Linked DNA regions of Homo sapiens. The protein of the gene in region 3 purifies or fractionates together with the protein of the main gene of each other region. This does not show direct contact. Each region holds a gene or a part of one and is shown on either strand. Other genes may lie near its edges.

The links.
Region 1: the proteins of KLHL15 (region 3) and ZNF451 purify together in Homo sapiens (co-immunoprecipitation; one large-scale study listed by IntAct). This does not show direct contact.
Region 2: the proteins of KLHL15 (region 3) and DNAJC7 purify together in Homo sapiens (co-immunoprecipitation; one large-scale study listed by IntAct). This does not show direct contact.
Region 4: the proteins of KLHL15 (region 3) and COL5A2 purify together in Homo sapiens (co-immunoprecipitation; one large-scale study listed by IntAct). This does not show direct contact.
Region 5: the proteins of KLHL15 (region 3) and GRK6 purify together in Homo sapiens (co-immunoprecipitation; one large-scale study listed by IntAct). This does not show direct contact.
Region 6: the proteins of KLHL15 (region 3) and CACNB1 purify together in Homo sapiens (co-immunoprecipitation; 3 studies listed by BioGRID and IntAct, with this or other methods). This does not show direct contact.
Region 7: the proteins of KLHL15 (region 3) and DNAJB4 purify together in Homo sapiens (co-immunoprecipitation; one large-scale study listed by IntAct). This does not show direct contact.

The regions. Positions count from the first base shown.
Region 1 is NC_000006.12:57,142,188-57,145,687, forward strand, and holds part of ZNF451 (E3 SUMO-protein ligase ZNF451), read left to right. Parts: intron 1-3,500. UniProt on the Homo sapiens protein: E3 SUMO-protein ligase; has a preference for SUMO2 and SUMO3 and facilitates UBE2I/UBC9-mediated sumoylation of target proteins. Plays a role in protein SUMO2 modification in response to stress caused by DNA damage and by proteasome inhibitors (in vitro).
Region 2 is NC_000017.11:41,975,935-41,979,439, reverse strand, and holds the end of DNAJC7 (dnaJ homolog subfamily C member 7), read left to right. Parts: intron 1-1,699; exon of another isoform or gene 1,700-2,116; coding exon 2,117-2,179; exon of another isoform or gene 2,180-2,669; coding exon 2,670-2,707; 3' UTR 2,708-3,005; downstream 3,006-3,505. UniProt on the Homo sapiens protein: Acts as a co-chaperone regulating the molecular chaperones HSP70 and HSP90 in folding of steroid receptors, such as the glucocorticoid receptor and the progesterone receptor.
Region 3 is NC_000023.11:24,006,687-24,010,186, reverse strand, and holds part of KLHL15 (kelch-like protein 15), read left to right. Parts: intron 1-3,486; 5' UTR 3,487-3,493; coding exon 3,494-3,500. UniProt on the Homo sapiens protein: Substrate-specific adapter for CUL3 E3 ubiquitin-protein ligase complex.
Region 4 is NC_000002.12:189,050,762-189,054,261, reverse strand, and holds part of COL5A2 (collagen alpha-2(V) chain preproprotein), read left to right. Parts: intron 1-49; coding exon 50-103; intron 104-313; coding exon 314-367; intron 368-784; coding exon 785-838; intron 839-1,243; coding exon 1,244-1,351; intron 1,352-1,459; coding exon 1,460-1,513; intron 1,514-2,036; coding exon 2,037-2,090; intron 2,091-2,780; coding exon 2,781-2,942; intron 2,943-3,500. UniProt on the Homo sapiens protein: Type V collagen is a member of group I collagen (fibrillar forming collagen). It is a minor connective tissue component of nearly ubiquitous distribution. Type V collagen binds to DNA, heparan sulfate, thrombospondin, heparin, and insulin.
Region 5 is NC_000005.10:177,436,676-177,440,033, forward strand, and holds part of GRK6 (G protein-coupled receptor kinase 6), read left to right. Parts: intron 1-1,213; exon of another isoform or gene 1,214-2,195; intron 2,196-3,238; exon of another isoform or gene 3,239-3,356; intron 3,357-3,358.
Region 6 is NC_000017.11:39,184,170-39,187,669, reverse strand, and holds part of CACNB1 (voltage-dependent L-type calcium channel subunit beta-1), read left to right. Parts: intron 1-68; coding exon 69-191; intron 192-740; coding exon 741-877; intron 878-1,097; coding exon 1,098-1,174; intron 1,175-1,565; coding exon of another isoform or gene 1,566-1,720; intron 1,721-2,519; coding exon 2,520-2,539; intron 2,540-2,805; coding exon 2,806-2,886; intron 2,887-3,286; coding exon 3,287-3,345; exon of another isoform or gene 3,346-3,437; intron 3,438-3,500. UniProt on the Homo sapiens protein: Regulatory subunit of L-type calcium channels. Regulates the activity of L-type calcium channels that contain CACNA1A as pore-forming subunit.
Region 7 is NC_000001.11:78,014,939-78,018,464, forward strand, and holds the end of DNAJB4 (dnaJ homolog subfamily B member 4), read left to right. Parts: intron 1-1,075; coding exon 1,076-1,309; 3' UTR 1,310-3,026; downstream 3,027-3,526. UniProt on the Homo sapiens protein: Probable chaperone. Stimulates ATP hydrolysis and the folding of unfolded proteins mediated by HSPA1A/B (in vitro).

The DNA.
Region 1 (3,500 bases), on a different chromosome or scaffold from region 3:
TTTTAAAATGAGAATATACAGTTGCCTGGAAATTAGCCAAATTTAACATAGTGAGAGAAGTTAGAGTTGTGGAAAACGTGGATATATTGATATTCTGCAAGTGTAAAGCAAGCTAACAGTTCTAAGTTTTGTGTATGTTCTTCTGTGTGTGTTCTGTAAGTATGAGTAGGAGAGGAAAGGGTTAAAGTAGAACCTTGGCTTTAAGTCAACCAGAATGGAAAGTATCATATACATTTGAAAGATTAAATCTCAATGAAAGGCCAAATTTATCAAGTAACCAAGAAAGAGTCCAGTATGATTTGTGATTGCCATAGTATCTGTGAGATTTATCTATATTGTTTAGTACATTGTTCCTTCTTATTGGTAAGTAGTATTGTGTGAATATAGCACAATTTGTTGATCCATTCCCTTGTTGATAGATAGTTGGGTTGTTTACAATTTATAGCTTTTATGAATAAAGCTGCTTTGAATACTTTGCACAGGTCTTTTCATGGTCATATGTTTTCATTTCTCTTGGATGGACATTGAAAAGTGGAATTGTTGGTTCAGAAGTAGGTTTATATTTAACTTTATGAGAACCTACTAAATATCCAAAGTTGGTCGTATTAGTTTCATTCCTACAGGTAAGGTATGAAAGTTCTAGTTACTCTTCACCCTTGCTAACATTTGATATTGCCACTCTTTTTCATTTTAGCTATTCTTGTGTCTCATTTTAGTTTATTATGTGCATTTTCTTGATAAACAATGATGTTGGGCACTTTCTTGTGTTTATGGGCTATTTGTTTATCTTTGTGAAATCTCTGTTCAAGTCTTTTGCCAGTCTTCAAAATTGGATTGTTTGCCTTCTTAATAGTGAGTTGGGGTTCTTTATATATTCTAGATACAAATCTTTTGTCAGATTCGTATCTAGAATACAGGAATTTCTAGAATATACAAATATTTATGAGTATATTTTCCTGTGATTTTGCATATTCATATTTTTAATTATACCTTTTGATGAACAGAAGCTTTTCTTTGCATTAGGTGTATAATTTGTTGATTATTTTCTTCTTTTATGGTTATGCTTTCTGTGTCCTGAGAAACCCTTGCCTCTTCTTGCTTAAAGAATGTATTTTATTTCCCTAAATTCAGCTTTGATATTTTTAAATATTTATGTTTATTTCTATAATCTATTTCAAATTTTTGTTGATTTTTACAACAACCATTGTCTGGTTTCCCTGGCAATTCTCTGTTGTTTGCCCATTTTCTAGTTCATTGATTTCTGCTCTTTAAACTTTGAGTTTAATTTGCTTATCTTTGTCTAGCTCTTAAAGGTAGAAGTTTAGATTGACTTTGGATCTTTGTTTTCAATATAAACATTTAAAAATATAAATTTCCCACTAAGCACTGCTTTACCTGCATGCCACAGATGTTGATAAGTTGTGTTTTCATTTTTATTCAGTTAAAAATACGTATCTCTTTTTTCCTCATTTAACCATAGAGTTACCATATGATCCAGCAATTTCTGCTTGTTGACAGCCAAGAGCAAAGTGAACTTGCTCTTGTTCACAAATACTTGTATGTTTGTTTATAGCAGCATTATTCATAATAGTAAAAAAATGGGAACATCCCAAATGTCTATCAGCTGACAAATGGATTTTTTTAACTGGACATATCCATACAAGGGAATATTATTTGGCCATGAAAAGGATTGAAATCCTGATTACATGTTACAACCTCAATGAACTTTGAAAACATTATGCTAAATGAAATAAGCTAGTCACAAAAAGTCCATTTATATGATTCCATTCACATGAAATTCCAGAATAGGGAAATCTGTAGACACAGAAAGTAGTTGCTTAGGGTTCAGTGGTTGCTTGGAGTTGGGGAGCATGGCGAAAAGGGAGGTGGGGAGGTGATAGCTAAAGGGCATGGGTTTTCTTTTTGACATAACACAATGTTCTAAAATTAACTATTGATGGTTGCACATATCTTTATGTGAAAAATAGTTGAAATTATATACCCTAAATGGATGAATTATATGGTATATGAATTATGAATTATATCCTTTTTTTTTTTTTTTTTTTTTTTAAAGATAGGGTCTCTGTCTGTCACCTAGGCTGGAGTGCAATGGTGCAATCTCGGCTCACTGCAACCTCCACCTCCCAAGTTCAAGTGATTCTCGTGCCTCAGCCTCCCAAGTACCTGGGACTATAGGTGTGTGCCACCATACCTGGCTGAGTTTTGTATTTTTTGTAGAGACGGGGTTTCACCATGTTGGCCAGGATGGTCTTGAACTCCTGACCTCAAGTGATCTGTCCGCCTCAGCCTCCCAAAGTGCTGGGATTACAGGCATGTGCCACCGCGCCTAGCCGTGAATTATATCTCAATAAAGCTGTTTAAAAATGTTTTGGAAAAATGTTATCTTTGCCCTTTTGATTTATTGTTTGACCTATAGGTTTATTAGAAATGTGTTGCTTGGCTGGGCGTGGTGGCTCACACCTGTAATCCTAACACTTTGGGAGGCTTAGGCAGGTGGATTGCCTGAGCTCAGGAGTTCGAGACCAGCCTGGCTAACATGGCGAAACCCCATCTCTACTAAAAATACAAAAAATTAACCGGGTGTGGTGGTGAGCGCCTGTAATCCCAGCTACTTGGTGGCTGAGGCAAGAGAATCGCTTGAACCTGGGAGGCAGAGGTTGCAGTGATCCAAGATTGTGCCACTGCACTCCAGCCTGGGTGACAGAAGGATTTTCTGTCTCCAAACACACAAAAAAGATATGTGTGGCTTAACTTCTAAAGGTTTATAGATGTTACATTTAGGTATTTAATTTATAAACATTTAGGGATTTGTATTATTTTTTGTTTCCAATTTAATTCCACAATAATTAGAGAACATATTTTGTACAGTTTTTTTCTTTTGAAATATATTAAATGTATAAAATGGTAGCAGGTCTGTTCTCTCTGGAGTTTAGTAGTGAAGACACAGTTGTTCTATTTTTTTATTTTCCTAGGGAAGTTGATTTATTTTGAGTTAATTTGTGGAATAGTATGTGGTTTTATTGAGCCTAGTTCTTCAGTGCAAAAGCAACTAGGGGCATGACATTTGTCTGACATAAAATTAATCAGTTCTTTATTTTTATTTCTTATAGATTCAGGGGGTACGAGTGCAGTTTTGTTACATGGGTATATTGTGAAGCTCAGATATCTGGGCTTTTAATGTCACTATCATCCAAATAGTGAACATTGTACCCAATAGGTTATTTTCCAACCCTCACCCATTTCCCAACCTCCCACCTTTTGGAGTTTTCAATATCTGTTTATTATTCCACTCTATATGTCCACGTGTACCCATTGTTTAACTCCCACTTAGAAATGAAAATTTGCAGTATTTGACATTCTGAGTTATTTCACTTAGGATAATGGCCTCCAGTTCCATACATGTTGCTTCAAAAGGCATGATTTCATTCTTTTTTATGACTCAGTAGTATTCCATGGTATATATACCATATTTTCTTTAT
Region 2 (3,505 bases), on a different chromosome or scaffold from region 3:
TTGGCCTCCCAAAGTGCTGGGATTACAGGCGTGAGCCACTGTGCCTGGCCTTCCATTGCAACTTATTTATTTATTTAATTTTTTTTTGTTGTTATGTTTTTGAGACATGGTCTTACTCTGTCACCCAGGCTGGTGTGCAGTGGTGCAGTCTCAGCTCACGGCAACCTCCACCTCCCAGGTTCAAGAAATTCTCCTGCCTCAGCCTCCTGAGTAGCTGGGATTACAGGCACCTGCAGCCACACCCGGCTAATTTTTATATTTTTAGTAGAGACGGGGTTTCACCATGTTGGCCAGGCTGGTCTCAAACTCCTGACTTTGTGTGATCCGCCCATCTTGGCCTCCCAAAGTGTTGGGATGACAGGCGTGAGCCACCGCACCCAGCCGGAATTTAAAATAAGAATGATGGTACTATATAGATAATGCTGAGTCCTCTCCAGTTCAGTGTGGGGGTATTTGTGTTTAATAAACCTAGGTTCACCACAATAAACATGTTCCTCTGCCTAGCAGTTAAGAAGATCTATAAGCAGTCAAAAACTAGTGAAGAGGTTTTGTTTTGTTTTGAGACGGAGTCTCACTCTGTCGCCCAGGCTGGAGTGCAGTGGCGCGATCTCTGCTCACTGCAAGCTCCGCCTCCCGGGTTCACGCCATTCTCCTGCCTTAGCCTCCCAAGTAGCTGGGACTACAGGCACCTGCCACCACGCCCGGCTAATTTTATTTTATTTTATTTTTATTTTTATTTTTTTTAGTAGAGACGGGGTTTCACTTTGTTAGCCAGGATGATCTCGATCTCCTGACCTCGTGATCCACCCACCTTGGCCTCCCAAAGTGCTGGGATTACAGGCCTGAGCCACCACGGCCAGCCGTGAAGTTTTAAGTAGGGGCACTGTGGACCAGATTTTGGCTCTGGAAATATATTTGTGATAGGGGTGAGGAGGTTGGGGTTGGAGGGAGTAAGGAGAATGGAGATGGAAGGAAGACACAAAAGGTAGGAAAGGATTGGAGGGCACAGTCAGGGAGTTAGTTAGTGGTAGACTCAGCAGGAGTTGGTTGCTATTCAGATGTGTTGGGGAAAGTGACAGGCATAGCTGACTCGGGGTCATTCACTAAGCCAGGAGCCCAGGAAGACACACAGATGCAAGCAGAGAAACTCACTCTGGGCACGAGGTGGCTGTGGGATCACCTGGTGGGGGTCAGTCCTTCTGTGAAGCTTGGGCAGTCAGTCAGGGATGGGGCCACCAGACATGCTGTGGCCTTGCAAAAGTGCACAGAGCCAGTCAGGCAGGAGTTGGATTTTCCAGTTCTGCTGCTTTCGCTGCCATGTGATCGTGGGCAAGTTACTTGAACCACCTACATATGTTTTGTTGAGTATTAATTGGGAATGATACTTACCCTGACAAAACATTACTAGGATTAAGTAATGTAATGTATGCAAAGTACCTAGTACTTTGCACCTAGTAGGTGTTTTTGTTGGTTTGTTGTTGTTATTAAGACAGGGTCTTGCTGTCACCCAGGCTGGGGTGCAGTGTTGTGATCATAGCTTACTGCAGCCTTGAACTCCTGGGCTCAAGTGATCCTCCCACCTTAGACTCCCAAAGCACTGGGATTATAGGTGTGAGCCACCACGCCCAGCTAATAAACCATAGCTTTTTTTCTAGCCTAGAGTCTACGGAGTAAAAGACATGGAATCAAATACAGTAAATCCTAGATCTTGCTCTTATATTTATTTTTGGTAACATTTAAGTGATACATTTTATCCTTTTTAGTAGCCGCTCCAGCATTATAGGGAGACAGAGTATGGGGAAAGTCTTGTGTAAGTGCAAATGGCATTCCATTTGTTGAGAAAACAGCCCAATGAAGCAAGCTGAAGCAGAGAAAGCTTCCTTTGGGGCAGCAGTTGGAAGGAGAAGGGAACATGTCCTAGGAGTGGGATCAGGTAGCATGTTTTGCACGGGATGGGGCAGGTTTGCTCACTTGCAGTCTGAAGTGTTGGGAAAGGAGGGGAGTGAGACTCTCCAGGAAAGCTTTGGAGATCTGTTCTCAGTGTCATCAGTTCTCTTCGAACATTTCTAATTTTTCACCTTTTCTTCCCTTCCATGTTACTTGCCCTGCTCTACAGATTTTGATCCAAACAATATCTTCAAGGCATTCTTTGGCGGTCCTGGCGGCTTCAGCTTTGAAGGTAGGTGGGCCTGCTGTTCTTGGGAGTTCCCAGATCACAAGCCAACACACTCATTGCCTCTTAGGCAGCTCTTTGGGAGTCAGAGGGGCCCATGAGCGGGGGCAGCTGAATTCTCATCTAGCAGGGCATCTATCCACTCGGCTGTTGCTAAGGATGAAGACAGGAAGGTTCCCAGGCACCCCTTGCCTTGGGACCTTTAGCCACCGCATCTCTGCAGGGTCAGGGAGGCATCTCTAACTGCCTAGTACCAAGGCTTCTCTGCAAGAGCAAAGGTACTATATAGATAATGCTGAGGTCAGAAGCTACCCATGTATAATACAGTCACGTGCTCCCTCTTGCACCCAAAAACAGCCTGAGCTGTTTGATACCCATAGAGTTTCTCTCTGTGTTTGAGTTTGAAGCAGCCCTTGAAGACTTTTCCATAATCAGAGCAAAGTGATCTTCCTTAGAAAATCCATAGCCAACTACCAACCCCTCTTTTCTCTTTCAGCATCTGGTCCAGGGAATTTCTTTTTTCAATTTGGCTAATGAAGGGCAACCACCCAGAACCCAGAAAATGCAGATTCACTCAGTTTAATCTTGAATGTGGAAACAGTTCACCTCCTCCCTTCATCACGTCTCCGTGTGCTTAGAGCAGTTTCGTTTTCTCAGTTGGATGCCCTGTGTCTCTGTGAGTGGGGTGGAGCAAAGGGAACCAATGCCGAAGACCGAGGGCAGGGGAGGGAGGCGGGGGTGGACAGGGAGGCAGCTTGTGAATTTTTGTTTTACTGTTTAACTTTATTAAAAAAGAAAAAAAAAAGAGAATAAAATGTTTTGACCCTTCCTGGCCCTTTGCTCTGGCATCTGCATTGTCTCCAGTCTGTGAGCCAGAGCTGAGCCCGACCTGGACTTGGGGTGCAGCAAGCTGCTGCATGCGGGCTGTGGGCACCCAGCCTAGTGGCAGGTGGGGCACTCTGCCTCTCCCAGACCTGTCCAGCATGTGAGTGCTAGGCAGGCCCCGGCTGTGCCTCTGGGCCCAGCCTAACATCAGTCACAGAGAAGCGAGTTCAGAAAGCATGCTCACTTTACGGTGGGGCCCCAGAAATCACTAGAAGCTGTGTGTGTCCAAAGCTCAGGTGGGTACTAAAAGCTGTGTGCGTCCAAAGCTCAGGTGGGTACTGACCTAGACAGGGCAGTTTACTTACAAAGACTCTCACAGTTCCTGTTGCAGTGTGGGTTCGAGGGAGATGGTAGACAGAGATAAAACCCTGCCTCCTGACCCCCAGACCCATTTGAGGTGGGACAGGTGGCTCCAGAGCTCTGGTCTGGCCACTATTTTTAGCAAAA
Region 3 (3,500 bases):
GACCAGTTTTGGATCAGGAACAGGTCCAAGTGGGGTGGGAGTAGGGTTTGCAATGGAATAAGTGGGGAGGTTGTAGGAGTTGAGATGGTCAGGGAGTTTTGACTTACAGTTTTTGGATGGCTGATCTTATGTGAACATTGAAGAGGTGTGAAAGATGACTTAGCCAGGTGTTGAAGTCTTTTTTTTTTTTTTTTTTTGAGATGGAGTCTTGCTCTGTTGCCCAGGCTGGAGTGCAGTGGTGCGATCTTGGCTCACTGCAGCCTCCGTCTCCCAGGTTCCAGCGATTCTCCTGCCTCAGCCTCCCAAGTAGCTGGGATTACATGTGCCAGCCACCACACCCAGCTAATTTTGGTATTTTTAGTAGAGAGGAGGTTTCTCCATGTTGGCCAGGCTGGTCTTGAACTCCTGACCTCAGGTGATACACCCTCCTCAGCCTCCCAAAGTGTTGGAATTACGGGCGTGAGCCACTGAGCCCGGCTTTTTTTTTTTTTTTTTTTTTTGAAAATGGAACCTCGCTCTGTCGCCCAGGCTGGAGTGCAGTGGTGCAGTCTTGGCTCACTGTGACCTCCACCTGCTGGGTTCAGGAGATTTCTCCTGTCTCAGCCTCCGGAGTAGCTAGGACTACAGGCGCCCGCTACCATGTGCGGCTAATTTTTGTATTTGTTTTGTATTTTATTTTATTTATTTTGAGACGGAGTTTCACTCTTGTCGCCCAGGCTGGAGTGCAGTGGTGCAATCTCAGCTCACTGCAACCTCCGCCTCCCGGGTTCAAGTGATTCTCCTGCCTCAGCCTCCCGAGTAGCTGGGATTACAGATGCCCGCCACCATGCCTGGTTAATTTTTATATTTTTAGTAGAGATGGGGTTTCACCATGTTGGCCAGGCTGGTCTCAAACTCCTGACCTTCAGGTGATCCACCCATCTCGGCCTCCCAAAGTGTTGGGATTACAGGCATGAGCCACCACGCCCGGCCTTTAATTTTTGTATTTTTAGTAGAGACAGGGTTTTACCATGTTGCCCAGGCTGGTCTTGAACTCCTGATCTCAAGTGATCCGCCTGCCTCAGCCTCCCAAAGTGCTGGGATTACAGGTGTGAGCCACCATGCCTGGCCCAGGTGTTGAAGTCTTCATCAAATGTTTGAGAGTGATTGATCAGAAGATGTGTATGGAAGTGACAAGGGGTGACAGAAGATGGATTTTTATCTGAGCAAAAGGCCAAGTTATAGAAAAAGAACAATAGAAAGCTAAGAGAAAGAAGACTTGGAAAGTAGGGCTGTAAGCTCTAAAAGTTTTTTTTTTGTTTTGTTTTTTTTTTTTCTAACACGCGTGGGAGTAGAGCTAGAGGTTGGAGGCAGGAGGCCTGGAAGCTGTGACTTTTAGGAAAACTATGTCTCATTTAAATCAGGTCGAGGAGGGAACTTTCTGTGACCAACCTGAGCATGTAGGGGATTTTGTTTACATTGAAGTAAGGTTCCACAGGGCACAGTGGAAAGGTTTGGGAGAGAATTCAGGGATGGAGGATGGGTCATTGGGGAGGAAGCCGGGAGCTGTGTAAGGATGAGAATTAAGAAGATAGATGGTCTGGGGTGGGGGTATGTGAAAAGGAGAAAATTAATTTGCTTCATAAATAACCCAGTAGACTGAATTAGTGGCCAGGCGCAGTGGCTCACGCCTGTAACCCCACCACTTTGGAAGGCCGAGTCAGACGGATCATCTGAGGTCAGGAGTTTTAGACCAGCCTAGCCAACATGGCGAAACCTGTCTTCACTAAAAATACAAAAATTAGCTGGGCGTGTAGCAGGTGCCTGTAGTCCCAGCTACTCGGGAGGCTGAGGCACAAGAATCGCTTGAACCCGGGAGGCGGAGGTTGTAGTGAGCCGAGATTGTGCCACTGCACTCCAGCCTGGATGACAGAGCAAGACTCCGAAAACAAAAAAATAGACTGAATTAGTTTATTCCGCTGTATTTAAGATATCTAATTATAGTTCTCTATTTTACCTTCATTTCTCTGATATGGAAAGATTTGGTTTAATTTCCTTTAAAATTATATATTTGTATTTTTAAATATATAAGCATTACATCATTATTGTTTTTCAAAGTAAGGGTAATGAGGTAAATGAAAAGAAAGCCTCTCCTGAAAACCTACTACCCAGGGACATTATTTTGGTATATATTTCTCCAGACTTTTTCTCATCTAACAAATATATGCGTATTTAGTTTTCGAAGACGTACTCAGTATACTGCAGTCACTTGTTTTTTTTTTCATACAATATCTGATAAATATTCTTTGTAAAAATAAACTGTTGACATCATTTTAAATTGATAATTTATTGTAGGACTGTATCATGTTTTAATAATTTGTTATTGGACTTTTGAATAGTTTCTGATTTTTAAATAATAAGCCTAGATAGAAAAACCTTATATGTACAACTTGCCTATTTATTTGAATATTTCCTTTAGGTAAATTTCTAGGAGTTTTCAGGTATACTTTTTAGTTTCATTTTTGTCCCTTTTCTCATTATTTAGTATTTGGCTGTGAAATCATTTTTATGTTGCTAATTTTGGAACCTGTTCAAAGTATATTTGATGAACAATATGAAATCAATGGAATAGGCATATATTATTTGTAAGATAACAATTTACCATTGTTTGATATATATATATATATATATATATATATTTTTTTTTTTTTTTTTTGGAAATGGGGTCTTGCTGTCTCCCAGGCTGGCATGTAGTGGCATGATCTTGGCTCACTGCAACCTCCGTCTCCCGAGTTCAAGCGATTCTCCTGTCTTGGCCTCCTGAGTAGCTGGGACTATAGGTGCATGCCACCACACCTGGCTACTTTTTGTATTTTTAGTAGAGTTGGAGTTTCATCGTATTGATCAGGCTGGTCTTGAACTCCTGACCTCAGGTGATCCACCCACTTCGGCCTCCCAAAGTGCTGGGATTACAGGTGTGAGCCACCGCGCCCAGCCGACATATATATTTTTAAGAGATAGGGTCGTGCTCTGTTGCCCAGGCTGGAGTGCAGTGGTGCTATCATAGCTCACTGTAGCCTCAAACTCGTGGGCTGAAGGGAATCTCCCACCTCAGCCTCTGAAGAAGCTGGGGCTGCTGGCAATGTGCCACCATGCCCAGCTACTTTTTTTTTTATTGTTATTATTTTGTAGAGACAGGGATTTGCCATCTTGCCTAGGCTGGTCTCCAACTCCTGGGCTCAAGCGATCTTCCTGCCTTGGCCTCCCAAAGTGCTGGGGTTATAGGCATGAACTATTGATGTATCTTTAATAGATTCTTTTCCTTAGATAGGGAAGCCAGAAATATTAGTCTGCAAACCTTTAGATTGTCTTCTCCCAAAGGACTTGTACATTTTGGACTTAGTCAGTAGAATTGAGATAATAGCAAAAATTGTTAAAACTCTAAGTTAATATTTTCTTCTGAATGCATGGAAGTGTTTAACATTGTTGTCTTTGATTTTTTTCCAGGTGATTCATGGCAG
Region 4 (3,500 bases), on a different chromosome or scaffold from region 3:
TTTCTGTGCATTTTTTACCTCAATATGCCTATGTTCTGTTAATTGACAGGGTCTTCCAGGTCCTTTGGGCCCTCCAGGTCCGGCAGGTCCTACTGGAGAAAAGGTAAGTCACAAGTTGTTAATTTGTACACTCAAAATTATGAGTCCTGAATAGCAGGCTCTTTCATAAATCTTTTCATTTTATAACATATGGTATCTGAGCAAGATCATTTCAGAGTTCTTTTCCACTATCTCCTCCTACACAGTGACCAATGTCCTAAAATTATGTTTAGCTACTGTTTTGGACAGTAACCATCTAAAATCTGCTTTCTAGGGTGAACCTGGTCCTCGAGGTTTAGTTGGCCCTCCTGGCTCCCGGGGCAATCCTGTAAGTGACAGTATTTTGGTGTTCTTTAGTGTGAGATTGAGCAATAAAACAATTAATCATTTTGTTTTTATATTTATATAAAACAATGCTTATTGGTTTTAGGTTATGTATAACTTCCTGGTTTTTAGCTTTTGCTTTTCTAATTAAACTTAAAAATTATCTGCTATACAATCTATTAAGTGTAGTTAGGCAGCTTGTTTACTAACTAATTTGGAGGCTCCTTTGAGACTTCTGACCTTGGGAATTTTGTTCTATGACCTATATCTTTATATAATCCTTAAGGACCTTCCTTAAGCAATATGTGTAATTTTTCTATATTTACATGTCTAACTATCAGATTTATATGATCATATTTTAAAATACTGTTCCTGTTTAGGATAATGTGTGAAAGCTACAGTAATCTTTGTCTCCTCCTAGGGTTCTCGAGGTGAAAATGGGCCAACTGGAGCTGTTGGTTTTGCCGGACCCCAGGTATAATTTTCAAATATCCCTAATTTACAAATAAACACTTATCTTGTTATAATAAGTTTAATGATCATTGTCATATGTTTTGAAGTCGTATTCTGGAAAATTTACAGTTTTCTAGACAATATTCTCATTTTCAATACATTTTTTTATAGACTGGCACAAAACTTGTTTGTGCTAGTTGAGCTTCTATAATTATTTGTTAAAATAAAAATGCAGTGGGATAGCTTATTTTTTAGGCTGTTTTGAAAGATCTCATCAGAGTACTTTTTTTCCTTTAGTATGCTTTAATACTGATTATAAAGCACTGTTTCACAATATATGATTAATTGATACATTAGTAATAATTACTCTAAAGTAATTTGTCTATAAGTCTTATAATCAATTGCTTGTTTGTATAATTTTTTATAGGGTCCTGACGGACAGCCTGGAGTAAAAGGTGAACCTGGAGAGCCAGGACAGAAGGGAGATGCTGGTTCTCCTGGACCACAAGGTTTAGCAGGATCCCCTGGCCCTCATGTAAGTTAACAAGAAAAAGGCATAACTTGAGTCAAGTGCCCCATGTTTGGAGTGTACATTCAGCCTCTTTTGCTTCACTATAGTGCTCTTTTGTTTGTTTCTATTCAGGGTCCTAATGGTGTTCCTGGACTAAAAGGTGGTCGAGGAACCCAAGGTCCGCCTGTAAGTTTATTTGATGCTCTGCAAAGTATGCACAGCTAATTCTAGTTACCTAGTGCTTCCTGGTCATGTAAAAGATAATTTTCATCTGAGACTGAAATAACAAATTATTACCTGTATCAACTGTACTATAGTGCAAAGGGCACTTAACTCAGATGGAGATTTGGGTTAAAATCAAGTTTGTAATCTTGGAGACCCAGGTGCCTCACCTGTAATGTAAGTAACATACTACCTATATAAAAGAGTAAATAAACAATGTGAAAGCACTTTATTTAATTTGATTGTATAAAATATCAATGTGATTCTAGTACTACCTGCATGGAAAAAGGAAAATAGTGCCCTTCCTACCAGTTAATCTAGATTAATTCCCCAAAATATGGGATTCGTACGAAGAAAAAAAAATATTGCTTACAACATGAAAGGAAATCTAAAGGCTTCAGTCTTCCTGTGAAAAAAAATCCCAGGAAAATACATGTAACTAATTTATATTACCTTAAAAATTGCTTATATGATATTCTGGTTCTAGGGTGCTACAGGATTTCCTGGTTCTGCGGGCAGAGTTGGACCTCCAGGCCCTGCTGTAAGTCAACTTAGTGAGACAAGTCACTGATAATGAAATAATTACACACACACGTATACATTTGAGTTAAATTTATTATTTTATTTAATTTCTTAATGGTATGTTTTCTTATTTAACAACTCTTATTCCAATAATGCATGCTGGTATTTCAGCAAAGCAAATCATCCTTAATAATCTAGTATTTCTTGGAGGAGCTAATTTGCAAGTTCTTTTTAGCCCCAATGTTTTATTATTATTCCGTTTAAATACTGAATACTTACAGTATTATGTGCTAATAATCATTCTCTTCAGTTAAGATGCAACTATGAAACTTTCTTTAATAAATGTCATTCATTATAAGATCAAATCATAAGAATAAATAATTATCTCAGAATAAAGTATTATATATTCATCATTGGAGTGGAGCTTTAAATAAGTTTGAAAATTCAAGTTAGTTGCACCACTCTTTAAAAATTATTCAAAGGGAATTGACTGCAAATGATATTTAGTTTTCCCCCTGGGGAATGAATCTACAGCTGTGTTTTCTTTTGTTTTGTTTTGTTTAAATCCTATAGAATGACTGATTATCTAACAGGTAAAATGAACCTGCGAGGCTTGGACATCTGCATCTGAGGCAGACAGCGTTATGTCAATCACTCTTACTTGCCTTCCATTTTGCCCTCCTTGGTGTTTCTTTCTTTGTTATACTAGGGAGCTCCAGGACCTGCGGGACCCCTAGGGGAACCCGGGAAGGAGGGACCTCCAGGTCTTCGTGGGGACCCTGGCTCTCATGGGCGTGTGGGAGATCGAGGACCAGCTGGCCCCCCTGGTGGCCCAGGAGACAAAGGGGACCCAGGAGAAGATGGGCAACCTGTAAGTTTGGCGTATCCGTTCCAGACCACCTTCAACTGAGATATTTACAAATAGAAACCCATAATGATCAGTGTCACAAAAATGCTTAAATATTATGCTGGGCACATTCCTAAAATTTTTAAAGTGCATTAAATCTATAAGGCTTTAGGAAAAACGTGTATATATATAGATTTTAAAAATAGCAGTAATAGATATGGTATCTAAAAACTAAACCCAAAAAAATTATTTGTTAAATGTTCATTGTGTATGAATAACTTTAAAAATATATGTATATTATATTTTATATGCAAATGCCTTTAAATATTGTGTTTAGATAACTCTTTTTTCCTTATTGTTAAACTTTCTTTTTGTCTTTTTATAAAGAAGAAAAAATATTTCTCTGAAGTTACCTCTTTTATTGAGTCAGTATTCACATTAATCTTCAGTTTCTTTCCAACGGATGAGCTGTTTTCACCTTTAAATAATGTTAGAGGTTCTGTGCGGATTACAATTTATGACTACTCATATGCAGTATGATTTTGAGAAACAGAGAACTTCTTTTTCATACTGAAAAACCTG
Region 5 (3,358 bases), on a different chromosome or scaffold from region 3:
AAAAGGAAAAGCCCCAGGATGGGTCTGGCTTGTGGCATGCCTGGATGGGGCTTGGAGCCTCTGACAATGTCCTAGGAACTCTCTCTCCTTCCCCTCACTGTACCGTTGAGTGTGTAGTCTTCATATTGGGGTAGCTCTCCCCATGGTGCGGCAGCAGTGGGCCCCAGCAGCTCAGCCACCACAGTAGACAGAGAGCTTCTCTTCTCTTTTCTCTTCTCCTCTCCTCTCCTTCCTTCCTTCGTTCTTTTTTCCCTTCTTTTTTCCTTTCTTTCCTTTCTTCCTTTTCTTTTCTTTTTGGAGACAGGGTCTTGCTCTGTCCCCGAGGCTGGAGTGCAGTGGTGAGATCTTGGCTCCCTGCAACCTCTGCCTCCCAGGTTCAAGCGATTCTCCTGCCTCAGCCTCCTGAGTAGCTGGGATTACAGGCGCCCACCACCATGCCCGGCTAATTTTTGTATTTTTAGTAGAGATGAGGTTTCACCATGTTGGCCAGGCTGGTCTTGAAATCCTGACCTCAGGTGATCCTCTTGCCTCGGCCTCCCAAAGTGCTGGGATTACAGGAGTGAGCCATCGCGCCTGCCCTTGCCCAATAATTTCAAAAGAAATCCTCATGGGGGAAAAGAAGTCCCAAAGCTGATGCCCATTGCCTCTCATTGCTCAGAGGCCCCTCACTGGCCACACCCAGATCATACACCCACCCGAACCTGCACCAATGGGGGAGCTCAGTTCCCCAGAGGAAAACTACAATGCAATTGCCAGCAGTGGGAGGGGCTGTTGGGCTGGCCATCCTTCTGTGGGTGGTCACTTTTCCTTATGGAGTCTCACCTGTTAACTGAGCATCTCAGTGGGCCAGGCACCCAGCAGGCAAGAGTATCCTCTAGTTGTCAGAGTCCGGGTGGCAGAAAACCAACCTAAACTCACTTAAGCTCACCGTGGAGTGTATTGGTTCATTTGGCCAGAAAGTCCCAAAGTAGGGCCAGCTCCAGGGTTTCCTGCTGTGTGCCACGATTCTCCAGCTCTTGCCTGGCCTTCAACCTGTTGACTCTTTCCCTCCCCCTGAATTAGGCTTCTCTGTGTGACAGTCATAGGGAAGGTTCTGATTGGCTAAGATGAGGTCATGTGCTTTCCCCTTCCCATGTCTATGAGGACTGGTCCTGTAATTAACGGTTCACCAGGAACACTGGAGAGGCCCGAAGGATGGGCAGGGCAGGCCAGGTTGATAGCTGTCAATGACACACACGTTTATTGATTCAGCAAATAGCTGAGTGCCCATTTATGCCAGACCCTGGAGATAATGAGGCCCACTGGAGCCAGTCCTGCCCTTACATTCTAGTGGGAGACACACCCAAACAAACCCGTAAGCCAGAAGGAATTCCAGGTAATGTTAAGTGTGACAAAGAAAACTAAAGCAAGCGGCTGGGTGCGGTGGCTCACGCTGTAATCCCAGCACTTTGGGAGGCTGAGGCAGGCGGATCACCTGAGGTTGGGAGTTCGAAGACCAGCCTGACCAACATGGAGAAACCCCATCTCTACTAAAAATACAAAATTAGCTGGGCATGGTGGCGCATGCCTGTAATCCCAGCTACTCGGCAGACTGAGGCAGGAGAATCGCTTGAACCCAAGAGGAGGAGGTTGCGGTGAGTTGAGATCGCGCATTGCACTCCAGCCTGGGCAACAAGAGTGAAACTTCATCTCAAAAAAAAAAGAAAACTAAAGCAAGCTACGAAGATGGCAGAGAATGATGGTGGGGGGAGCGCTTTTAGACACCGTGGTCTCTGGGGAGGTGATGCTGGTGCAGAAATGTAAAATATGTGAAGCGGAGAGCCATGCCAAGGTTTGGGGTGTGAGCATTCCAGGCAGAAGAAACAGCCGGGTATTGCAGTCCTGAGGCAGGGGCCAGCCCTGTGAGGTGGAGCAGCCGCGAGGACACCTGTGTGGCTGAGTGAGCCCGTGCAGGCAAAGAGGAGTGCCGGCAGGTTCTCAGCAAGATGGGACCGCTGGGGGACCCTGGGCAGGAATGTGAGGTGTGGGGAGTGGGCCATAGTGGGTGTGAGTGGAAGTGGGGAGGCCAGTGAGGGGGCTACTGCCCTGAGTGACTGCCTCACATGGGCCTCACTGGAACCGCTGGCCAGGCTGGTCTCGAACTCCTGACCTCAAGTAATCTGCTCGCCTTGGCCTCCATACCTCTTGGTCTATACCTAGAAGTAGAATTACCAGGTCATATGGTAACTATGTTTAACCTTTTGGGGAACTGCCAGACTGTTTTCCAAAGCAAAGGTGGGCCCTGTCAGAGGCACTTACTTGAACTAAGAGAGCCTGACTTTCATCAGCTCGCCCCTGAGGCTGGCACTGCCACTCAGTCTGTTCTGTTTCCTGTGTACATCATCTCATTTAACCTTGAAATAACTACACTGCCTCTGGATCTTCCATTCAAAGTCGGAGATAAAATCAGTGCCCTGGAGTTTAACTTTGTGGAAGCAGTAGATGAAAAAGCAAGCTTGATGATATTTTTTTAACAGCTCTATTGAGTTTAATTTATATGATTTATATACCATACAATTCACCCATTTAAAGTGTACAATTCGGCTGGGCGTGGTGGCTCATGCCTGTAATCCCAGCACTTTGGGAGGCCAAGGTGAGTGGATCACCTGAGGTCAGGAGTTCAAGACCAGCCTGGCCAACAAGGTGAAACCCCCGTCTCTACTAAAAATACAAAAATTAGCTGGACGTGGTGGCGCATGCCGGTAATCTCACCTACTTGGGAGGCTGAGGCAGGAGAATCGCTTGAACCTAGGAGGCGGAGGTTGCAGTGAGCTGAGATCACACCATTGCACTCCAGGCTGGGCAACAAGAGCAAAACTCCCATCTCAAAAAAAAAAAAAAAAAGTGCAATTCATTGGCTTTTTAATTATGCAGTCAGCACCACGATAAATTCTTGAGTGTGTTCATTACCTGCCCCACTCTGCAAAAAAAAAAAAAACCCATACCCTTAGCAGCCATTCCCCATGCTTCCCTCCCGCTGCTCCTAGCAATCACCAGTCTACTCTGTGTCTCTCTCTGTTTGCCTACTCTGGACATGTCATAGCTATGGCATCACATAGTATGTGATCCTCTGTGCCTGGCTTCTTTCACTTAGCATAGTATCTTCAAGGTTCATCCATGTTGTAGCATAGATCAGTGCTTCATACCTTTTTAAGGCTGAATAATATTCCATTGCATGGATAGACCACATTTTCCTTACCTGTTCGTCAGTTGGTAGACATTAAGATTGTTCCCACTTTTTGGCTGTTATTGCTGCTGTGAACATTCCTGTACAAGTTTTTGTGTGTGCAGATGCCGCCATTTCTCTTGGTCTATACCT
Region 6 (3,500 bases), on a different chromosome or scaffold from region 3:
TCAGGAAGTTGTACATTACATTGTGGTTTGCCCTCTAGTTGCCATCCTCCCCTGTGTGCCTCCTCTAGACCAAGCCAGTGGCATTTGCTGTGCGGACAAATGTTGGCTACAATCCGTCTCCAGGGGATGAGGTGCCTGTGCAGGGAGTGGCCATCACCTTCGAGCCCAAAGACTTCCTGCACATCAAGGAGGTGGGTATCTGGAGGGAGGGCAGGGAAGTGGGTGCCAGGAGACAGGCAGCCAGAGTGCTAGTGGACAAAAGGCTTCTGAGCCAAGCAGAGCCAGGCTGAATCTGCTGTGTGACCTTAGACAAATCTCTCCACCTCTCTGAGCCTCTTAATTTTCTACTGGAAAAATGAGGTGGTAATGCTTAGGTCAGAAGGTTGTTGGGAGGGTTTGTTAGGGGGCCTGAACTGGCATGGCGGTGTGCCAGGGACATGTAGGTATCCGCATTTACTCCAGCGGCCTTTGTAGAGTAGGGTGGGCACATGGGGAGAAGGACTCTCAGAATTGCATTGGGCCGGTGGCAGGGTGGTCCATGGCCAGAAAGCATGCTGGTCCTGGAGTTGTCCTGAGAATTGGCAGCTCCACTCAGAGGCTGGAGCCAGGGCTGGGGATTTTTGAGGGTGCCACCCCTGGGCTGGGAGGTGAGTCTGGGCGTTTCCCCTAGAGAGTGACTGCTAGCTTGCCCCTGCAGTTTCCCTCTTGCTCTTTCCACCCACCTGCCATATTCTTTGCAGAAATACAATAATGACTGGTGGATCGGGCGGCTGGTGAAGGAGGGCTGTGAGGTTGGCTTCATTCCCAGCCCCGTCAAACTGGACAGCCTTCGCCTGCTGCAGGAACAGAAGCTGCGCCAGAACCGCCTCGGCTCCAGGTGTCTGGGTGGGGCAGGGGAAGGGGATGCTGCCAACCCCAGGAGAGGCCATACAGCCTGGACTAGGCCTCAATGGTTGTCCCTGGCCCTGAGGGCACAGAGCTGCCTGTGGCATCACCAGTGGGGCTGGAGCACCTCCGGGGGTGCCGCATGTGAGAGGATGAGAGCCCCCCACGCCCACCTCTTTGCTCACAAGCTCGGTTTGCCTCTGCCCACACAGCAAATCAGGCGATAACTCCAGTTCCAGTCTGGGAGATGTGGTGACTGGCACCCGCCGCCCCACACCCCCTGCCAGTGGTAAGAGCCATCGCCATGCAGGGGTTTGGGAAGAAGCTCCTGGGTGGGGTGGTCTCCCCACTCCCTGAATCCTCCTTTCCCTGCAGTAGGAAACACCCCAATCCTGAGTCCCCCAAGCACATGCAGTGGTTCCCCCTCCATGAAGAGTAGGCTACCCCTCAAGCTGGGCCTGTCATGTCTCTCCTCTCCCTTTTCTTTGGTAGCTCCATCTCTCTGCCTGATTCCCCTGCCCTGCCCCCATTCATTTCTCCCAGCCCTGTTCCATTCACCTCTTCTTCTTTCTTTTTTCCCCATCCCCATCCCTGCGTTCTGTACTTGTGTCTCCACGTTCATCTCACTCCTTCTCCCCACCTCGCCTCCCTCCTCCCTCTCTCCTGACTCTCCGGTCCAGGTAATGAAATGACTAACTTAGCCTTTGAACTAGACCCCCTAGAGTTAGAGGAGGAAGAGGCTGAGCTTGGTGAGCAGAGTGGCTCTGCCAAGACTAGTGTTAGCAGTGTCACCACCCCGCCACCCCATGGCAAACGCATCCCCTTCTTTAAGAAGGTAATTCTCGCTGTGTTCTTGCAAGAGGTGGGGGAGTCAGGGCCAGCACTTTGGTGGAGGGAAGGGGGCTGTAATGGATTCAGATGTGGTACCAACCTGTTCTGTGGGCATCAGGGCTTCCTGCTGAGGTGGAGGGAAGGGTAGCATGGGCACATCCCCCTCCACACACAACTCCACCCTGGCCCGATCTCCAGGAAGGAGATCTTGCCCTTGGAAGGTTGCCCCCACACCTGGGGCAGCAGGGTTTGGTGGTCATGAACCCTGACCTCTCCCCTCACTCCCAGGGGCCTGCTCTGGTGTTGGTGTCTACCTTGGCATGTGAAGCAGGACATGGGATGGCATTCCTTCTTTGCCCTTTTTTGACTCTCTGGGTGGGCACATAGTGGGGGGGGGCTGCTGGCTGCAAAGCAAGACAGTTAAGGGAACCCCTAAAATGGGCATGTTGGCATGCACTGGGGGCAGGAGATGGGCAACAAGATAGGGGCTGTCACCCTCTCCAGCTCTTTTCCAAGACCCAGAAGAGGGTAGGATATGTCTGAATATTCCCACATCCACTGGACTGACTGTCAGTCCTGCTCCCAGCCCTGATCCAGGGCCACCTCTGGCTCCCCCTTGGCGTGGGGTCCCGTTCCCCGTCTCTGGCTCTGTCTGTCACTAACACGCATGCCCTGTTATCTCTCCTCGTCTGCCCGGCTCTCCCTCCCTCTCTTGTCCTGGCTCCTGCCTTGCCCTCTGCCCCTGCCTGGGTCCCCTTCCCTCTCTCCTCCCCCTTCCCTCTCTTGGCAATCTCTGGACCCAGCCAAACAGAAGCAGAAGTCGGTGAGTATCACAGCTTTCTGTGTCCTCCTCCCCACTCCCTGGGATGAGCTAGGGGGACCTTCTAACACCCATTCCCACATCTGTCCCCCATTTCCCCCACCCTTCCTGGTTCTCCCTGGCCATCCCTCCCCACCCCCACCCTGATCCCTACATCTGGGCTCTGGGACCAGGGTGGGGGAAGGCTGCATGGGGGAGCCTGGAGTCTGGGGGAGAGGATCTAATGTCATCTCCACTCTGGGGTTTCCCCTCCCTGCTTCCCCCCCCAGACAGAGCATGTGCCCCCCTATGACGTGGTGCCTTCCATGAGGCCCATCATCCTGGTGGGACCGTCGCTCAAGGGCTACGAGGTAGGACTTCCTAGAGGGGAGTGGATGCAGAGGGGCCTTAGAAAGATCTTCAGACCCCAGAGAGATCCCCTAGAAGGGCCCGATCCCAAGGCATCCTCCCAGGAGGGCTACAGACTTTCAGAGACAACCCCCAGGGGGCCCAATCCACAGAAAGACCCACTCAGAGGAGCCCCGTCCCCCAAAGAAACCCTCAGAAGAGCCCTCCCAGAGATGCCACTTACAGGGACCTTGGAACCAGAGACCCCAGTGGAGGCCCCTCAGACTCAGACCCCCGCCCGCCGTAAAGGCCTGTCCAGAAGAAAGTGGAACGTGAGGGTACAAATACCCAGCGACTCAGAGTCTGAGCGGCTTTAAATGCCTGCCTTCTCCTCCCTCCCTCCCCACAAACCCCCACCCCCAGGTTACAGACATGATGCAGAAAGCTTTATTTGACTTCTTGAAGCATCGGTTTGATGGCAGGTAAGATCCTGGGAGCTGCTCCTCGCACCTGCCGTTGCTCTCTGCTGCTGGGGATGGGCAGGATGCCTCGAATCACAATCCTGGGACTCGGACTGAGGAACAGAAGGCGGGCCTGGAACTGGGGAGTGGGCAGGGCATTCCAGCCCACCCTGACC
Region 7 (3,526 bases), on a different chromosome or scaffold from region 3:
CTCTATGGAACACTATTGTTTCTTACCCTGCTCTAATACCTACCTGCTACTGCCCAATGCTTAGTTCAAGCATCCTCTACTCCCGGAATCTAAGGGGTTAAGTTGGGTGCTCTTTCTCTTACAAAAGACCTCCATGCTTACCTCTGTTCTTACACTATACAGTATTATAATGGCTAGTTTGCTTCTATGTTTCTGTGAGTTCCTTGTGCATTCCTTGAGCTGGGGTCTGTGTTCATGGTCCCTATAAGGCTCACCATCTAGCCAGAATGTGTGGCATATAGTAAATGCTCAGTAAACATTTGTTATCTAAAACAAATATATTTCTTGTCCTAATACTTTCCAGAGAAATAGTTGCTCCTATCCAGTTCTTTCTAGTCCTGAATTTCTCCCTCTTCTCCCATTCCAATCCCTGCATCTTGAATATATTAATAGCAGCTTCAAAATAACCATGTCATTCCAGGGCAATGTGGAATATATCCTTTACTTCTCTTTTACCTTTTCTTTTCTTCTTCTTTTTTTTTTTTTTTTGTAACATATCTAATAATGCATGTCCTGAAGGAATTTTCCTTTTTTTCTTTTCTTTTCTTTTTCTTTTTCTTTCTTTCTTTCTTCTTTTTTTTTTTTTTTTTTGAGACAGTTTTGCTCTTGTTGCCCAGGCTGGAGTGCAATGGCACGATCTCGGCTCACTGCAACCTCCGCCTGCTGAGTTCAAGTGATTCTCCTGCCTCAGCTTCCCGAGTAGCTGGGATTACAGGCATGTGCCACCACGCTCGCCTAATTTTGTATTTTTAGTAGAGACAAGATTTCTCCATGTTGGTGAGGCTGGTCTTGAACTCCTGACCTCAGGTGATCTGCCCGCCTTGGCCTCCCAAAATGTTGAGATTACAGGTGTGAGCCACCGTGCCTGACCTCTGAAGGAATTTTCTAATGAGGAAAAAAAATTTATAACTATTGTTATTCTTTTGGAGGTTAAAGTTTTACCTTAGTGGTATTATCCTTTACCATCTGGTAAAATTTGTGCTTAGATTTTTGAGTTTTGAAGTGTTTTCATTTTATTTTATTTGGTCCATTTTAGGCATTGTGTGGCTGCTCAATTAATGTACCAACACTGGATGGAAGAAACATACCTATGTCAGTAAATGATATTGTGAAACCCGGAATGAGGAGAAGAATTATTGGATATGGGCTGCCATTTCCAAAAAATCCTGACCAACGTGGTGACCTTCTAATAGAATTTGAGGTGTCCTTCCCAGATACTATATCTTCTTCATCCAAAGAAGTACTTAGGAAACATCTTCCTGCCTCATAGAATGAAGAACTTTGTTACACATATTTTGATAAGGCACTGAAAATATAAAAGGACTGGTAGTTTACTGATGTAGATGTGAATTCTGTATAAAGATGTGTAAATTCTTTTGAGGGTTCATTAAATTGCATGAATAGAGACGGGTCAAATAAATAGGCAAAAGGGATTTTTACAGTTAGAGATAAAAGAGAAAACCATTCACTGTATTTTATTTCATTTCTCCTGATTCAGATATTTTTAGTAATTTGCTTATATGTAAAAGTTGTTTTTGTGGAGTCAGTGGATATATTTCTAATGAAGTGCTAGACTATCCAATTACTTAATTTCTTATACCTTTAGATAATCAGTATGAAAAGTTCCCATTTATAATGGAAATGAAAATTCTTAACTAAACTATACATGTAATATGTATTTCTAGAAGAGAATAAAAACCCAAGTCAGTTATTAGATTTAAATCACCTTCTGAAATGCTGCTATAGGGCTGGTATCTGTAAAAGAATATCCTGATGCATCTGTTTCACCATTTTGATTTTTAAAGTATGCTGTAGCATTTCTTAATAACATCGTTGTGATGTTCTTAAGGCAGATCTTTCTTCATAAAAAGGAAAGTAATGGCAATTTCTCTCCTGTGGAAATCCCAATTGCTTGAATTACTGATATTTTAGAATAGACTTTTTAAAATGCCATATGTAATTTTATGCAAGTTGACTATATATCTTGTACTTAATAAATTATAGGCTCATTTTGTTCTCTGCTAGTTTAAAGTAATTCGTTTAATAATAGATGTGTTTTTAGAGGAAATGCTGTTACTTGGAATTAATTTTCCAGTTATACAGTCTTCTATAACTTACTAATAATATTCTATATGTACTTTATGTAATTTCCCTAAAAAGAATGAACTACCACTACACTATGGTGTTAAACCAAAATATAGGGAAAATAAACACTAACTGCTGCTTATGGATAATGTTGCAACTACTTGTTATGCATATAAATATTTTACTTTTTCACATGTATAGATTGCATTTCTTAGGTGTTTTAATTTTTTAAATATATTTATGTTTTAAAAATTTAGTTTTGTTTTCTGTTTTATAACTATAGTGAGAATGATGTTTTGAAGCAAAATTTTTGGTTATAAAATAGTTTTCAGGATTATATATATATATACTGGATCCTATCGCCTTTTAGTAGAATATGAAATATTCTTTTAGAAATCCAATATAAATAGGTTATAATAGCCATATTCTTTATTACTTTATTGAGATATAATTTACATGCCATAAAGTTTACCCTTAAAATATATAATTCAGTGGTTTTTAGTGATATTTACAAAGTGGTACAATCATCATCACTTTCTAATTCCAGAATATTTTCATCACCCCAAAAAGAAATCCTAAATCCATTAGCAGTTACTTCCCATTCTTCCCTTCCTCCAGCCCCTGAAAACACTACCATCTACTTTTCATCTGTATGGATTTGTCTGTTCTGGACATTTCACATAAATAGACTCAAACAATATATGGCTTTTTTTTTTTTTGGTCTGGCCTCTTTCATTTAGCTTAATGTTTTCAAGGTTCATCTATGTTGTATCACGTATCAGTACTTTATTTTTTGTGTGGCACGTCATATGGATATACCACAATTTGTTTATCTTTTCATTAATTATGGGCATTTGGCTTATTTCTACTTTTTTGGCTATTATAAATAATGCTGCTGTGAACATTTGTGTGCAAGTTTTTGTGTTTCAATTCTCATGGGTATATACCTAAAAGTGGAATTTCTGGGAGTAACCATATATTTGAGTTGCAAATGGAAAATGCTTGAAAAAAATGCCACAGAATTCAGCTAATCGTATTTATTACTCTAATTCATAAATGATTCCTCTATAACTGTCTCTCTGAATGACAGTTAAAACTCCCTACAGAAGTGTGAACATTACAGAAATTTTCTCACAAGTCTAAAGATCTAGATCTGAAAAGCATCAGTCAACGTGGTGAATGATAGTGGTTTCTGTTTTAAACCCATCATTATTTATTGCAATTTTCTTGATTAAGCATTTTCTCCCAGGTAAAATAAATGATTTATAGATAGATATATAATAATCTTTGGATTAAAAAGTTTTTTTAAGCAGAGAATTATTATTCTAGTAGTAAATAAATTTACATAACTACACAAAACCAGTATACCAGTATCTCTCTTATCTTAAAGGATATTGACAAT